Regions from separate parts of the Homo sapiens genome. Here region 1 is linked to region 2. The links come from fine-mapping of genetic effects on gene expression. A gene starts in region 2. The other region holds a variant in brackets. All regions are shown on one strand. Distances are from middle to middle.

Region 1 (2,896 bases), 32 kb after region 2:
TCAAAAACTGGTATTGTAATAGCAAAAAAATGAGAAAGAGCACGTTGGAAGGCCGAGGCAGGTGGATCACAAGGTCAGGAGTTCAAGACCAGCCTGGCCAATATGATGAAACCCTGTCTCTACTAAAAATACAAAAATTAGCTGGGGTGGTGGCTCATGCCTGTAGTTCCAGCTACTCAGGAGGCTGAGGCAGGAGAAATGCTTGAACCTGGGAGGTGGAGGTTGCAGTGAGCCGAAATCATGCCACTGCACTCCAGCCAGGGCGACAAGTGTGAAACTCCATCTAAAAAAATAAATAAATAAATAAGAGAACTAGATGGTGGCATACTCACACAACAGAGCACGCATTATAAAAATGCAGGTGAATGAGCTGAAACTCCACGTCAACATGCAGGAAGTGAGAAGATTTGAGTAGGGAAAAAGCACATTGTTGTAGAATGGAGGTAGAATGGAGTATTAGTTACATCAGCCAGGCACAGTGGCTCACACCTGTAATCCAGCACCCTGGGAGGTTGAGGTGAGCAGATCACTCGAGCACAGGATTTCGAGACCAGCCTGGACAACATAATAAGACCCCAGGTCGGGCATGGGGGCTCACGCCTGTAATCCCATCACTTTGGGAGGCTGAGGTGGGCGGATCACTGGAGGTTAGGAGTTCAAGACCAGCCTGACCAATATGGTGAAACCCCATCTCTATTAAAAATACAAAAATTAGCCAGGTGTGGTGATGCATGCCTGTAATCCCAGCTACTCAGTAGGCTGAGGCAGGAGAAATGCTTGAACCCAGGAGGCGGAGGTTGCAGTGAGCCAAGATCACGCCACTGCACTCCAGCCTGGGTGACAAGAGTGAAACTCTGTCTCAAAGAAAAGAAAAAAAAATAACAAAAAAAACCTCCATCTCTACAAAACAAAACAAGTTTTTAAACTTAGCGTGCCTGTAGCGCCAGCTACTCGGGAGGCTATAGTGGGAGGATCACTCGAGCCCTTGAGTTTGAGGCTGCAAACTCACACTACTGCACTCCAGCCTGGGTGACAGAGTGAGACCCTGTCTCAAAACCAAAACCAAAACCAAAACCAAAAACAGGATAGAATACCGTTCCATTGATGTAACCTTTTTGAAACCTTATGTATAGATGTATAAAAATATGTAGTACA[A/T]TTGTATAAGCTCACACTGCAATTATTCATAGAAAGTTCAGAATCAAGCTCACATTCCAGAGAGGGAAGGAGGGAGAAAAGGGAAGCCTGAGTACAATCTGTTTTAGAAATATCTGAAGCAAATGTGCAAAAAGATTTGCTGAATTCTGACAGTAGATACAAGGATGTCATATTCTTTTCTGTATTTTCTTTTACTATTTCTCTTTTAAAAAATAGAAAACACGGCTGGGCACAGTAGCTCATGCCTGTAATCCCAGCACTTTGGGAGGCCGAGGCGGGGGCATCACCTGAGGTCAGGAGTTCAAGACCAGCCTGGCCAACGTGGTGAAAGCCCGTCTCTACTAAAAATTAGCCAGGGTTGGTGGTCCATGCCTGTAGTCCCAGCTGCTCGGGAAGCTGAGGCAGGAAGATCATTTGAACCCAGGAGATGGAGGTTGCAGTAAGTGGAGATTGCACCATTGCACTCCAGCCTCGGCAATAGGAGTGAAATTCTGTCTCGAAAAAAAAAAAAGAAAGAAAGGAAGAAAATGCTTGACAAGTACCCAGCACAATAAAAACCCCGGTGGAGGCCTTGGGAGGTCTCCTGGGGCCACACCTTACCCTGCACAAGGCACCCCCACCCCAGCCACTTCTGGAGCCTCAGACCATGGCAGAGACCAGCATCGTCCTTCCCACTCCTGGAGCAGGTTGTGTGGGCTCAGAAAGCCCCAGAATGCACCCTCTCCTGAGCCCTCAGGTTACCTGTGCTGGGGATGAGGCCCCAGGGGGCAGAGCAGGGGACTCAGATCCCCCTCTCAGCCAGGCTCAGGGCTCCCTCAGGACAGACCCCTCGGGCACCAGCACTCACCAAAGGCGGCCCCCACAAGGGAGAAGCAGGAGAGGAGCCAGAGGGAAGCCATGCCGCTGCCTCAGAAGGTGTGGGGCCTGCCAGCTGCGGGGCCCCTTTTACCACCTTGGGGGGGCAGGGAGCCCAGCCCCCCCCGCTCCCCCAGCCAGGGAGGCCTGAGCCCACCCTCCCTGTTACCCAGGGACCTTGGGCAATAAGTGGAGACAGAGCCCCGCCTGGCTCTCTACCAGACAACCCCAGTCCCTGGGAAAGGGGCAGCTGCGCTGACATCACCGGTCAGCCTTGGGGACATGATCCCACAGAGCCAGCTGTGAGCTGCAGTATCCCTGCCAGGAGACGGCACCAGGCTCTTCTGTTCCCAGAGGGGAAGTGGAGGCAGTTCCACCCCAGGGCTCGTGGAGGACCAGCTGCTGTCATGGAACCAGGTCTCCGGGAACTCAGGCTCTCAGTGAAGGGTGTTTCCGCCTAACACTGTCCTAGAAGCAAAGGGTGACTCAGGGCATCGTGGATTCTCCAGAGTGTCACTGCAAGTCACCAGTGAAGCCAAGCCACTTCTGACTGTGGCGAGGGTCTGGGTGACAAGGACCAACCCGCTGGTGGCCGTAACAGGTGGGCAAAGCCACTGACACGCGTCCCACCTGTGCTGTAGAACCCAACAGAATTCACTTTTTCTGCAATGACTCATGATATAAGGAACTAATCATTTCATAAAGTTTCAGTTTCTTACAAAATGGAACTTGGATTCCGCACCATAAAATGACACAGAAAACAAACTTTTTAAGATGGAGTCTCACTCTGTCACCCAGGCCGGAGTGCAGTGGCGCAATTTCAGCTCACTGCAGCCTCCTCTTCCCGGGTTCAACTGATTCTCCTGCCTCAGCCTCCCAAGTAGCT
Region 2 (2,896 bases):
TGTGCCAGCCAGGCTGAGGAGTGGGTGGCTGGACAGGGTCAGGGTGCAGGAGGGGCCCGGCACAGCTCTTGGGAACAAGCAGGAGGAGATGCTCCAGGCAGCTTCCCTGAAGGCTGGCTCCTCTTCTGAGGCGAGGCGGGCTGTGTCGGGGAGGCACAGGGTGTTGGCTAGCTGTTCTGTTCCTCCTGAGGACTCTGGGTCATGCTCTGTCTCATCCCACTGCTCCTTCCTCACCCGCTGTGCTGTGAGTTCTGGCCAATGCTTCCCAAGCCAAATATTGAAGAAATGCAGACGTCCAGTTTTTTGGGAGGGGTGGGACACAGGAGTCTGTTTTTTAACTAGCTCCCCAGAGCACCTGAGCAGCAAATCATGGGCTGTCCTAGCCCCTTTTCAGATGAGAAAGGAGCCCAGAGAGGGGAGAGGGCCTGCCAAGGTGGCACATCTGGCCAGGCGCTGCGTAGGCTGAGCCCTGGGGGTCAGACAGAGGGGCAGCTGCAGGCCCACCTGGGCTTGTGTCTTCCATAGGCCATGCTTGAGAATTCTCTGCTGCGTGAAGCCGGGTCTACCCCGCTGCTTCCCTGCCACCAGGGCTGCCTCGTGGCATCCCATTGCTCAGCCAGTGGCCCAGGATTGTTGACTGAGGGTCCTGTCTGGTCTGGACCAGGCTCGGTCCTATCATCTCCCTGCAGATTGTGCCTCCCTGGCCTGGCCCAGGGGCTCTGGCACCCTGGTTCTGCTGCATGGGGTGACAGTCACTGACCTGCAACCGAGCAAGGGGCAACTCAGGAGAGCCAAGGTTGTCTCCACTCGGTTTCCCCCGAGTGATTCTTCCTTCTATCTCCCTCATTCCCCCAGTGCCGCTCTCCTACCCCATGTCGCTGAAGCAGATGAGTTGGAGCAGGACTCAGGAGGGTACTAGGCCCAGGTTTTAGGCTGAACCTAGGAATGAGTAATGAGAGGAGGCAGATCAGCTGGAGGACCAGCCCGAGTCCCCAGATGTCGGCACAATGCAGGGGAAGGTAGGTGCTGCCCGTGAAAAGCGCTGGGTCGAGAGCTCGCCAGCCTCCCTGCTTGAGGCTTCATTTCCTGGGGTCCTTACACGGTGGGACCGTCTACAGTCGGAGCTGTGGTGGTGATGATTCGTCTCCTACAGGCTGGGGCACGCCCCCTCCCCTTTCCCTCTAGATTCAGATTTGAGTCCCACGGCCCATGGACACGCGATGAATGCCCTGGGGTTGGTTAGCGGGAAAGACAAGTCGACTTGAGGCCATGTCTCGGCTCTGGAGGAAGAAGGCAAACCGGGCAGCCTTCCCAGAAGTGGAGGAGTTTGCGTAGGCCTTCGGTGCGTTCTCGCCTGGGTGGAAGGCGGGGACGTGCATTTGTTGGAGAGCGGTGTCCTGCGCCCTAGGCTGGAAGCCTGGCCTCGGGCAGGGGCCTGGAGCCTCGGGGTTGGAGGTGGGGGGCGGGGCGGGGGGCGGCCCCTACTGGGCGGGCTTCTGTCTGCGCGCCCGCGCCCCCGACAGGCGGCTTATTTGCATGGAGAGCGGCGGCGGCCAATGGGCGCGCGCGGCCGGGCATGCTGGGATCGGGCTGGGCCGGCTGGGCCGTGGCGGCAGGCGGAGAGCGGCTGGACCGGCTCTGGGTGGCCGAGGCGGCAGCTGCGCGGCGGCACCGGGGCGGCTGCGGCGCGCTCGGAGCCCCGAGGGCACGCGGCCCGGGCAGCTCGGTGTGCGCCCCCGCGAGAGCCGGGGCCCCAGGCCCGCCGGACACCATGAACCACCTGGTGAGGGCGCCAGGTGGGGCCGGGCCGCGTACGGGCTTGGAGGCGGCAGCGGGCTGGAAGGGGTTAAGCGAGCGGCATTTCCTGCCGGACCTGCGGGGCCTGGGAACCGCCGGCCGGGGTCCGCGGCCCTGGGATCTCCTTCTGCCCTGGCCGGGAAGCCGGGAGGCAGGAACCGCGGGGGCTCCGGAGCCTGTGCGCCTCGGGTGCGTTGGCGGGGCCGGGCGCGGGGGCCGCCAGCCGGTAGGAGGGTTCCTGTGTCGGGAAAGTGGCTGGCGGGGCCCGCGCTCCCCGGCCGACGGCCGCCTGCTGTGTCACCTTGGGCCTCTGCGCCCTGCCTCCGAGCCTCAGTTTCCTCGGCTGCGAGGAGGGGCCGTTGAGCCTCTGGCGGGTGGTCCGGCTGGTGTGGCGTGGGGACTGCCCACCGGCTCCCGGAGAGGGAGGAGCTCCGGGGGACCGAGGCCGGGCGGGCAAGTGCGTGGCGCCAGCGGGGAAGGCTGCGCAGCCGGAGCACCCGGCTCCAGTTAATGATTCACTCCGGCCGCCGGCGCGGGGTTCCGGGAGCGGAGCGGGAGTGGGGGCGGGCGCGCCGCGGGCTTTGCAGCCCCGCACGCCGAGCGCCGGTGGAAGCCGGGTCCTGGCCACAGGAGTCCTAGCCGCACGCGAGTGTCGCGGGAGGGGGCCAGGGCCGGGTTCTGCAGTGTGGACATGAAGGCTTTGGAGTCCATGGTTGGGGGACCCGCAAGAGCTAGAGCAGGGTCGGAGCTCCCTCTCGAGGGTCCGAGAGGCTGATCGCTGGACCGAGGTGAGGGAGTTGGGAAAGCGGAGATTTGCCTAGGGGTGCGGGGTGAGGGGCTTACGGCCTGGAAGATGTTGGGGTTTCGAGTTCCAGATCGGGGACAGCAGCTCCTTTTCTACCACAAGGCTCCCGTTCCCTCCTGAGAGTCCCTGGTTTCCTTTCCCACACCCCTCCCGGGGCCCGCCGCAGCTTTGGTCACCTTCTCAGAATGACCATGGGTTGATCTCTTCTTTGCTAGTGAGATGTTTCCCATCGCCCTGGGCCGGGACACGCCCCCTCTTGTGCCCATTCCTTTCCCTCGGTGGAGAGTTGGGTGG

Evidence for each region. PIP is the estimated chance that this variant, and not a neighbour inherited with it, causes the effect. A credible set is the group of variants that fine-mapping cannot tell apart.
Region 1: its variant is the best candidate, but not a certain one, in a credible set for the expression of BCAR1 in unexposed skin (GTEx, PIP 0.77).

What each region holds. Positions count from the first base shown.
Region 1 is chr16:75,218,166-75,221,061 of GRCh38, reverse strand. It overlaps CTRB1 (chymotrypsinogen B1), which reads right to left and starts at 2,074. Exons shown (of 7, transcript NM_001906.6): 1 at 2,003-2,074. The coding sequence starts at 2,054. RefSeq lists an enhancer at 2,457-2,536. The variant A/T (reference allele first, on the strand shown) is at 1,156.
Region 2 is chr16:75,250,358-75,253,253 of GRCh38, reverse strand. It overlaps BCAR1 (BCAR1 scaffold protein, Cas family member), which reads left to right and starts at 1,630. Exons shown (of 7, transcript NM_014567.5): 1 at 1,630-1,783. The coding sequence starts at 1,772. RefSeq lists enhancers at 1-337, 878-1,418 and silencers at 1,418-1,527, 1,588-1,747.